Linked DNA regions of Homo sapiens. The protein of the gene in region 2 purifies or fractionates together with the protein of the main gene of each other region. This does not show direct contact. Each region holds a gene or a part of one and is shown on either strand. Other genes may lie near its edges.

What was found.
Region 1: the proteins of ISL1 (region 2) and BCL9L purify together in Homo sapiens (affinity purification with mass spectrometry, with the first as the bait; one large-scale study listed by BioGRID). This does not show direct contact.

The regions. Positions count from the first base shown.
Region 1 is NC_000011.10:118,908,292-118,913,278, forward strand, and holds part of BCL9L (B-cell CLL/lymphoma 9-like protein), read right to left. Parts: intron 2,497-4,987; exon of another isoform or gene 2,417-2,496; intron 2,252-2,416; exon of another isoform or gene 1,725-2,251; coding exon of another isoform or gene 1,649-1,724; coding exon 1,623-1,648; intron 1,599-1,622; exon of another isoform or gene 720-1,598; coding exon of another isoform or gene 649-719; intron 365-648; coding exon 1-364. UniProt on the Homo sapiens protein: Transcriptional regulator that acts as an activator. Promotes beta-catenin transcriptional activity. Plays a role in tumorigenesis. Enhances the neoplastic transforming activity of CTNNB1.
Region 2 is NC_000005.10:51,381,398-51,387,099, forward strand, and holds the start of ISL1 (insulin gene enhancer protein ISL-1), read left to right. Parts: upstream 1-2,050; 5' UTR 2,051-2,274; coding exon 2,275-2,302; intron 2,303-3,143; coding exon 3,144-3,333; intron 3,334-4,791; exon of another isoform or gene 4,792-5,203; coding exon of another isoform or gene 5,204-5,229; intron 5,230-5,702. UniProt on the Homo sapiens protein: DNA-binding transcriptional activator. Recognizes and binds to the consensus octamer binding site 5'-ATAATTAA-3' in promoter of target genes. Plays a fundamental role in the gene regulatory network essential for retinal ganglion cell (RGC) differentiation.

The DNA.
Region 1 (4,987 bases), on a different chromosome or scaffold from region 2:
TGGGGTCCCAGCCTCTCGCTGCTCTCCAGAGTCCACAGACACACTCCGGTCCCTCTTCACCTTGCCCTTGAGCGAGCTGAAAGGGGGCACCCCTGCCTGGGGGTTCTTCAGACTTGAGTTGCTAGGCGAGATCTGGTTGGCCTTGGCCCCATGGTTCCCCGCCCCCACGCCCTTCGAGCCCACGTTGCAGGTGGGTCCTTGGTTCACATTCTGGTGCTGAGATTGGGCCCCGCCATTCCCTGTCTTGCCATGATTGGTCAATTTATTTTCTGGGTGCATTGGCTTGGCTGGGGCAGGGGGGCAATGACCGCGGGGGGACAGCGGCGGGCTCCCTGGAGCTTCTCTCCTCCTGGGGTGGGGTAACCTGGGAGGAGGTGGGAGAAATGTGAAAAGTTAACCTTGCTAGGGGCTAGGCATGCCTGCAACTTAATTACCCCATCCTGCCTCCCCTAACAATGGGGGAGGGTGGGGGGAAGGGGTGGTATCTCAAGACCACCACCAGCTATTCTCTACCTCCCTCCATGGCTTCCTCAGACAAGGGCTGAAGCCCTCATCCACCTTGGGGAGTGGAGATGGGGAAACCCTCCACCCCCTAGCCTCCACAATTTGAATGGAAACCAGGGCCTAGAGTTGGCAGAATTCACCCACCTCAGCCCCAAAACACCCATCAGCCTGCAAGCTTCTGTGGCAACCCTGTCCTCTGTATCAGACTTAAGCATCCTCTCTTCTAAGATCTGCTGTCTTCAGACTCCTTCCAAGGTCTCAAACCTCAACTCCCATATGTCCCAACACCAGCAGAGAAGGGCCACAGGACCTGGGGTCACTGCACATGCCCGGGTCTCATTCCCCAGGGACAGTGGGAAAACGCACACCAGGGAGTGCTACCCACTGGTCCAGACAGCTGGAGGGGAAGGCCTGAGGAGGGGGGCTTGGCAGGCCAGGCCGGCAGGCAGAAGCAGGAGGAAAGGGGGAGGGGAGCGGTGTGTCAAGCAGATGGGGAGTGTAGCTTGAAGCCAAGGATTCCTGCAGCCTAGGCTGCGGGCCCTTTAAGCTCCAGCCCGCTCCCCCCGCCGCCTCCCCCTCCCCGGAGACCTATTAATAGCCGCTGGAAAGATCACATCACGGGAGAGGATATTTATCCCCCCTCATTCCACACCAGCTCAGATTTATTTCAGCTCTGCTGTCCTGCTGCTGCCGCCTGGCCCTGTCTGCCGGCTTCTCCGGGGAGGGGGGAGGGAGGCAGGCACCGCCCCCTACTCCAGCTCCCACCTCCAGCTAGACTGAGGCCAGAGGCGGCCTTCGGACCCCACAGTAGGGTGGGAGGGGGTCTGCTCAAACCATTTTAAGGAGGGAAGAACTAGAAGGGACCAGAAGCCGCAAGCATAGCTGGCTGCCAGTCCCCTCTGCCCCCCACCCAGGCCCAGGCACTAAGGCTGGCTGCGCCTCCTGCCTCGGGCCAGGCCTTCCCATGCTAACCCCCCTTTAGCCCACTGGTGGCCTGGGAGCCAGGTGCCCAGGGCGGCTCCTCTCCTGGCCAGCACAGCTTGGGCCCCATCACCACTGGGCCCTTCCCTTCCCGCACTCCACACACACACATCCCACCCGCCACGACACCCACACACCTTGTCTTGTTAGCCAGGATCCTCATGGCTCCCACACACAGTGGGGCTACGGCCCCTGTGCGTGCCCAGGGCCCAGCCAGGTACTCGGTACTGGAGCACGGACTGCAGCAACAAGCCCCAAAGAGAAAACTCGTGACTTGGGGAGGGGGTGTCAGAGGGGGAGGGGAGAAGGGAGGACCCAACAGCCCTGGGACTAGGGAGCTGGATAGGGTGGGGTGGCACTGGAAAAAGAGGATTACGAGATGGGGTCTCGATCCTGGAGGCCAGCCCTGTCCCCATCCCTCCCGCACCTTGCCCTCAGGGGGCTTGCAGTCTCCAGCAAGCCTCCGCCCCGACGGGCGGCAGAGACAGAATTCACTAAAAGGCTAGGTAGCAAAGGTGCCGTGTGGGGCGGCTGTGAGGTCTCCCCTGGCCCCCTGAGGGATTCCTGCTCCCAGACGCGCCCCTCACCCAGGGTGGGGTACCCCTCGTGCCCCACCCCCAGAGCGCTCCAGCCGTGGAGGGGGCCCGGGGTTGGGGCCACGCCCCGCCCCGTCCCCAGCTCGAGGCCTAGCCCGTGCCCATCCCAGCAGGCCCGGGCGGGCAGCGAGAGGCCTGGCGGGGCCCCGGGGCTGCAGCTGGGCTCTTCTGGAGACCAGTAACGCTGGCTCGGATTCCTCCCCGACCGCAAGAATGCAGGAGCCTCCCCTCCCCCCGCCCTGCACCCCCACCCCGCCCCCTTCGGCAGAGCCCGGGCGGAGAGGCAGAGCGAGCGAGCGACAGCCAGCGAGGCAGCGAGCGGGAGGCGGACAGGACTGCAGCGTGCTTCTCCAGGCCCCGCGCGCGGACAGACACACGGACAAGTCCCGCCAGGGGCTGGGCGCGCGCCAGCCGGCAAGAGCTTGGCGAGCCCCGGGTGCTGCCAGCAGAGGCTCAGAGACCCACAGACACCCGAACTCTGACTCACACACACTCACAGCTCACACGTGGACAGGGAGACAAGACACGCACGGAGCCCAGGAAGCTAGAGGCGCGCCGAGGCCAGGGAAGCGCCGCCGGAGCGGGAGGCGCGGAGACAGCCTGGGGCACGCGCAGACACCGGGGCTGCCCGAGGGCTGAGTGGGAGCGCCGGACCCATTGAACAGATGAAAAGACTGAGGCCGGCCACAAGAGAGCCGAAGAAAGTTGAGCCTGGTAGTCACAAAGAAACACGCACAGGGCCATAGATACAGCAACAGACTTACACAAACACAGAGGCCTCACCCAACCGCCCCCAGCCCTGGCTCCCCCCTCGCCTCCCCTACCCGCCCTCCAGCAGCCCTCCAGCAGCCGATCCCGGTCAAAGGGGAGGAGTCTTGGGCCCAGGAGCTTCGTCCCGGTGACAGGCCCGGCCAGACACCGGTGCACACTCCTGATGCTCCCTGCGGGGCTGCTGGAGGCTGGGCGGGGACCTGGGGGTGAGGGGGCCCCACCTGCCACCCTGCGGGAGTCTAACCCCAACTTAACCCTAGGGCACATTGGCCTTCGCCACTCCAGCCGTGTCTCTGGGGAGGAAGGCTCCTGGGGGAAGGTTCCAAAGTCCAGGACCTGCCTGGGAAGCAGCCCGCCACCCCCAGCTTCTCCATCACAACCAGGGAAGAGCAGAGGCAGAGGCTGGAGTCACTGAGATACCAGGGCTCTGAGCAGGCTCCTGGCTGGCATGCATCTCAGGCTCTCCCTTCACCAGCTCGCTGATTCTCAAAAGGATCGACCCCATTTCAACGAGGAAACTGAGGTCTGGGAAAAGGAAGTGGCGTGACCTTGAGTCACATATCCAGTATGTGGCAGTGTGGGGACGGACCCTCATTCCAGACACTGCAGTGACCCCACCTCCCCACGCCAGCCATGACTGCTCCTCTGAGCCTGCATCAGATAGTTGGGCTTCCCACATTCCAGCCACAGTGCCCAGGTCCCCCATAAGGGGGGAGGGGCAGGGCAAGGGCCACTCACTACCTATGTTCACAGCCTCAAAAATTGAGAACCTGTAAGAATTTGGGAAGGGGCTATTAGAAAATCAGTCCTCTCCAGTGGCCGTTCAGGCCTAGGCTCCTCCCCAGAAGACTCTTCCAGTCACCCTCCCCTCCGGGACTCCACCCCCTCTCTCCCACCCCGCCGCAGGGCGAGCTGAGTCAAGCGTGGATGAGTCAGGACTTTCCCATCTCACACCTCCCCCCTTTGCCCCTCAAGAGTCTGCCCCAGCTCCCGAAGACCCCTCCTCCTCCACACACTCACAGTCTCCGAAGACACCTGGAAGGCCTGGTGATGGGAAGCCAAGAGGGCTGATCCCAGCCCAATGCAATTTTAAAGCACCCAGTGAAGGGGGCTTGCTAGTACCAGGCCAGGGGCCCTTGAGGTACGAGAAAGCAAAGGGATGGGGCTCTGGGAACACGTCACCGTGCCTCCCTCTTAGGGGGTTAGGTGGGGAGGGGTAGCAAGCTCACAAACAGGGAGCAGGTGCGAGTCACCTGAGTGGAAGGCCAGGCGCATACCAGGAGAATGAATCGGAGGAGCGGAAGAGGCGGCTTGACAAAGGGCCTGAGATATCCATCCGCTCCCCCACCCCGAGTGACGCGAGGGTAGGAGCTAGCAGCCTAAGGGTTGCTAAGGGTTAAAGTGGACTTGATCCTAGCTGGGGGAGGGAGCTGAGGAAGGCTCAGATGCCCAGAGCCTCCAGGTATGACACACCGGCTCTGCTCCACACACAACTACCACAGGTAGGGCAGGCGTTCACACATCCAGTGGCAACCTGCCTGCTCCTAGCTGCCCCCACGTTGGGAGCCTCTGCTTGGCTCACCAGCTGGCCCAGCAGTGTCACTGCCTAGCTCAAAACCACCCCAAAGAGGCAGTGAGGAAATGTTTTGGAGGGTTCATGCTCCTGAGCTGCCAGGGCCCCCTGTGATGACGTGAAAGCCCAGGACCCTGCTGGGGACAACAGGGCGAACGAGATCCTTGGCCTCTGGCTCAGGGAGATACAGCGCCCGAGACGACAGGGTCCCAAATCCCCTTTCTCCTGGGTGTCAGGACCCCTCAGTCCTCAGAAGCTCTCTCCACCACTCAGGTCACTTCCTCTTCCTGAGGTGGTGACTCAGCGGGCAGGGAGGTCAAGGATTCGTAGCCCAGCAGGAAATCTGCTCAAGGACCAAGGTGCTGCTCTGGGACCCTCGATGTGGGGACTTCCAGGCTTAGGGGGCCTTCCCATGGCCCTGGTTCCTAGTAGCTCTCCACACTTCCCCCGACTCTGTGCCAAAGGAGACCATGCAAATCAGCCATTTTTGCTTGGGAGGTTTTCCCTGGGAGTTTCCAGCCCCACCCCACCTGCAGCCCTAGGGTAATGTCAGACAACCCCA
Region 2 (5,702 bases):
AGGCTTCTGGTGGCTTCTGGTGTTTAATTCCATCTTATAAAAGTGGCATGATGGAATATGACTAGGTAAAACTCTATTTTCTGGCATTGTGGTGGTATCTTTTTTTTTTTTTTTTTTTACTAGGGTCAACATGTTTATCTCTATGGGAAACACACACAAATACTAGGAAGATTTGCTTCGTATTGAGATTAACAGCATCAGCTTTGCAAAAGCAGCCTGACAAAAGGCTCCATACATCTAATACCAGAGACTAGAAACAGACCAAAAAAAAAAAAAAAAAAAAACACACACCACACAACTGGTAAACTTATCAACCTAGGTCTATCCAACTTTCGCTTTCATACACGCGCTCTAAAACAACTTATAATAAAAATGGAAGGGAAGACAGATCCAATTTGAAATCCTCCTTGAGAAAAAACAAATCAAAACTAGTTCCTGGGGAAGAAAGCCTCAGCTAGGTCAGGAGGAAACTTACGCATCTTTGATTCCCTTTCCGCTTTGGAGAGGCATTACCCGTTCAAGCCCAGCCAATGCGGCCGGCCAGGATTTACAGCTCTTATCAAGGGTTAGATTTTGCGAAAGATATAAAGAAAGGAGTTTCCTAACACACCGGGTCTTCTCACAGCAACAAGACACCGAAATTAAGCCTTCTATGGTTTGTGTCTGTAGGACTTTTTAGATAAAACTGGCAGCCCCATTAGATAAGAAATGGCTTTTTAGAAGCTTTGGGGGAAGCGCGGGGGTTCTTCGTGGCCTTCCTGTGACTGTCTTTGGGAGACCGTAACAGATGATGGGAACATGTAAGAATGATTGAAGAAGGTTACCGGCGAGTTGCACCTAACAGTCTTCTCTCTCCAAGTAGTTTCTCGAGAGAAAATTATATATTAACGCCTGGGGACGTGAAATAGGTCTTTCACTGTTCTGTAATAAATCCCTCCCTACTCGCGCCCTTAGACTAATGCATTTTTAAAAAATCTCCACAAAGTCATGGAGACTTGTCCTTATAATTACCAAAATACCACAGCTAGTTGCACAAGTTTGCTTAAAAACAAAGGGCAGGAGACCAGCAGTGAGAAGAATTGAACAGTATATAAAAATCTTACAAACTTTAGACTACTGAAAGATCATTTCGCTCTTTGGCTTCGGGTTAGTGAGCTTCAATTCTAGAGTTAAACTGAGAAGCAGACCTCGCGGGTCTGAAAGACAAAAAGTCAGTCCGCGGAGTCAACTTCGGTTTACCGGTGCGTTCCAACCTGATTGTCCCAACAGCAAGAAGCGCCCCTTTCCTCCCACCCAACGTTTTTAGATATCTGAGGTTGGGGGAGACGGAGTAATGGTGTAGCAGTCAGGAAACAGTTCCTCTGGGTTTAATCATCCCATTCCCGATTCTTCTTCCCCTAGCGCGCCGAGCGCAGCCAGTTCTGGAGGAACTAGCCCTCCGGAGCAGCCAAGGCAGGCCAGGCCCCGGGGATGTGCACCACGGCGTGGGGACCAAACCAAGCTGAACGGCCTGCTCCAAGTTCCCCCCTTTTCCTAGAGCCCGGGAGGGACCTCGTCAACAGGTAGACCTACCCACCAGCCACTCGCCACCGGCGGCAGAAAGTGAGCCCCGCGCGCAACGCGGCCAGCCGGACTGCGGGGACCCCAGGAGCGCAGGGCGGAGGAGCAGCGCCACAGGAGGCGAGGGCGCAGGCGGCGCGGCCGGGAAGGAACGCGGGAGGGGACAGAAGGAAGAGGAAGAGGAGGAGAGGGAGGCCAGAGCCAGAACAGCCCGGCAGCCCGAGCTTCGGGGGAGAACGGCCTGAGCCCCGAGCAAGTTGCCTCGGGAGCCCTAATCCTCTCCCGCTGGCTCGCCGAGCGGTCAGTGGCGCTCAGCGGCGGCGAGGCTGAAATATGATAATCAGAACAGCTGCGCCGCGCGCCCTGCAGCCAATGGGCGCGGCGCTCGCCTGACGTCCCCGCGCGCTGCGTCAGACCAATGGCGATGGAGCTGAGTTGGAGCAGAGAAGTTTGAGTAAGAGATAAGGAAGAGAGGTGCCCGAGCCGCGCCGAGTCTGCCGCCGCCGCAGCGCCTCCGCTCCGCCAACTCCGCCGGCTTAAATTGGACTCCTAGATCCGCGAGGGCGCGGCGCAGCCGAGCAGCGGCTCTTTCAGCATTGGCAACCCCAGGGGCCAATATTTCCCACTTAGCCACAGCTCCAGCATCCTCTCTGTGGGCTGTTCACCAACTGTACAACCACCATTTCACTGTGGACATTACTCCCTCTTACAGATATGGGAGACATGGGAGATCCACCAAAAAGTAAGAGGCTATTTTACCTTGTGGGGCTCGGTGTGCTGTTCTTGTGCGGGGTTCTCTCTCAGGCACAGGCTGAGGTGCCAAGGGCTCTTTGGAGTTGGAGTCATTGCCTGGAGAAAGAGAAAAGGTGGCTTTTTCTTGTTGCCGCCACGCCTGCATGCTTACTGTCGGTTCTTATCTTCGGGAAACTGATTGTACCTTGTGTGTGAATTCGCCTGTGTGCCCTCCAAAGCTCTAGCTTTCTGGTGCTAAGCGGTGATTTCCTCCTGGGGAATCCTGAGCTCTCCGAGAAGGTTATTATGTTGCAAAGGTCTGCCTGCACAGTCAATGCCCAGAGATGTGAATTAGCATTAGACTTGCAAAAGAGAACGAGTGACAACTGTATTTATGCCTGCTCTTGCTAACAATATCCAGTCCTGTGTGCTATTTAAGAGCGCGCTTCACGGAAAATATAGACATCCCTGCGTTCACTTAACGCTTCTAGTCAAAACCTTTTCTTTGACTTGACTTATCCATAATCTTTCCCAATGATTATAGCAAAGAGGAAGGGGGGGGGGAGAAATACAAAATGAGCGGGTTTGATTGCGTGCTAGGCGTACAAATGTAGACTATTCCAATCTGCATTTTACATATATTCCACCTCCTTTTAAAAATGAGTCAAGGTTTTGATGGCACATTTCAATTACCATCCCAAAGTGCAATGCTCTAAAAAAAAAAAAAAAGAAAGAAAGAAAGAAAGAAAAAAACCTCCCAGAGTACGCCCTATAAGAGAACGACACTAAAAGTGTGTTTATCTCTGTAGGAAGTAAACGGTTAGTCAATCATGTATTTATTTTCATTTCAGAAAAACGTCTGATTTCCCTATGTGTTGGTTGCGGCAATCAGATTCACGATCAGTATATTCTGAGGGTTTCTCCGGATTTGGAATGGCATGCGGCATGTTTGAAATGTGCGGAGTGTAATCAGTATTTGGACGAGAGCTGTACATGCTTTGTTAGGGATGGGAAAACCTACTGTAAAAGAGATTATATCAGGTATGGCATTTACACTTCTTTCTTAATTTTGTGGGATTTCCCTGAATCTCCCCACTCTTTATGTATTATTTGGTGTGGCTTTGTCTTTTTGTGAAGTTTGCCTCAGTGTAGTCATACAAGCCAAAGTTACCCTGTACATGTGTTAAAAAAATCAAGCTATGCTGTTCATTTCATTCTTTAGTTGAGAAAAACAAAAACCCTTAACAGTGGTATTCATAATTCCGGGGTATTGAGGCTTGTTTAATTACTCTTGGAGTTTATGATGCACAAATTATTTTCCTCTTTCACCCTCCCCCTTACAAAACAAAATTTTAAAAAGATGGAGAAGTTTGGATTTTTAGCTTTAAAATAGGGTTGATTTTTGTTGTATAGTGCAGTGTTCTGTTTGTTTTAGTCCTTTTTAAAATTAGTAGCTTACAAATTCTTTGGTGGCATCAATGCAATAGGTGAAATAAAAGTTTGACCGAAGCATGTTTAGAGATGTACTTTGAAAGAGCGAGTACAGGTATTGCTCCTTTTATTTTTGGGGTAAGACCTCCTTCTGAGAAAAATTTAAAACCAACCTAAATATTCCTTGGAAAAAACACCGGAAACTTAATCTTTTTAAATATTAACCCTTTGGTGACATCTAACTGTCTCTTCTTTCTTATCTTATCTGAGCTGATGAATTAGAGCAGATCAAATTGCCCATCATCTGTCTACGAACAATTGGTATATTTAGATAATTGAACAGCTTCCTTTCTCACATTAAAATCTGGTAACTGATAAAATGAGCGAATTGTCCAAATTGACAAGACTGAAACAACATAGGAACTTTCTGAGTTTGGTTTTGTTGTTTTGGAGAGTTTTTGTTTTTTTTTTCCTCCAATTTATTCTGCAACACGTTTTGCTAATCTCAAGTTTCCTCTGACTTGTGTGTATGTATCAGAAACTTTGTTTTCTGCCTTAGAAAGCCAGTAGTCTCTAAAGAAAATTGTATTCATTTTATTAACAAACAGAAGAGACATCAGCATCATTATTATGTTAAATAATAGCAAAATATCACTTTTTAAATGTCCGGTGGCTATTAACAAGTAATTAATTAGCTTTTGTTAGGCAAATGGTTTCTGGAGCTTGAGAACTTTTATTAAAGTTTAGTTAAGATTTAATATACAGTCACAGTTTGCTCCTGCTCACTTAGTATCCAGCATTTTTTTCTTCTTTTTTAAAAATCATGACACAGAGAGTATAATCTTGGTAGATAAAATTAACCTGGTTGGGGGAGGTTAATACTTCGGAGAGGGAGTGAAAGGAAGTAAGGGAAGTCGGGGTACAGGAAGGGGGAGGGATTTTCTAAATTGTTTGGTCACCGCCAAAGTCAAGTCTTCACCCTATGAAATGGAAGATCTCACATTGAGTAGGCGGAGGGAGGAAAAACTTTTGAGTCCACCTTCTAACCTCTGACAAATGAGCGTTTTCATTGTTTACTAGATTGGTGTGTAAACGCAAGATTCTAGAGAAGGAGAGCCCACTTCAGGAGTATCTTTACTGCTATGGAAATAGTATTTTGCTCAATTGCACACAGGCTTGCATGTGCCTAATTCTGGATACACACATGTGTAGAAGGAACTAATCATTTTTACCTTCTCTTCACTCTCTCTCAACTCTGTGTGTGTGTGTGTGTGTGTGTGTGTGTGTGTGTGTAATCTTGTAGTTGTAAAAGCAGAACAGACTGGACAGTTAGATTTCCACATCTCTCCTTGGAGAAGCAGGATGCCTCCTCCTGTTATGTGGATCTTTTCCTCTCTCTTCCATTCTTTCTGTTCGTAGGAATGCCCCAGCTTCTGTTATTCCTGAAAGATGGAGAAGGGGCCAGGGAAGTGCAGCCTAGATGGAACCTATAAAGATTGTCCCTTGGTAAGGAAAGGCCAGGAGTGAGAAAGACCTTAGAAGCGGGTCTTTGCATTTTTTTCATTCTGGTCATGGTTTTCAAGAAAATTGAAATGAGGTAGATGATTCAGCAACTTGAAAAAGATTGAGGGAACAGACGCAGATTTTTTTAAAAAAATAATAATACAAGGAAGAATGGAGAGGAAATTTTCTGTTAACATTGCTGCCTGAAGAAAATCTTTAGTTGGAGAAAGACTGGAAAGTACTTGTGCAAAAGGAGATGTGGAAACTCTCAGAGGTTTCATTTTGTTATTCTGCTTGTTTATTTGTGAGTGTTTGCAAACCGAGTGGGGTGACAATCCCCTTCTCCTACCTCCTTTTTTCTTGGAAGGAGGACTTTTTGTTGCAGTTTTAGACATTTCTAGCAGCAGAAATTGTGGGATAGGGAAGTGAAAGTGTTGGTGTCGGTGGCCACCAGAGTCTTTCTGGATTCCTTCCTG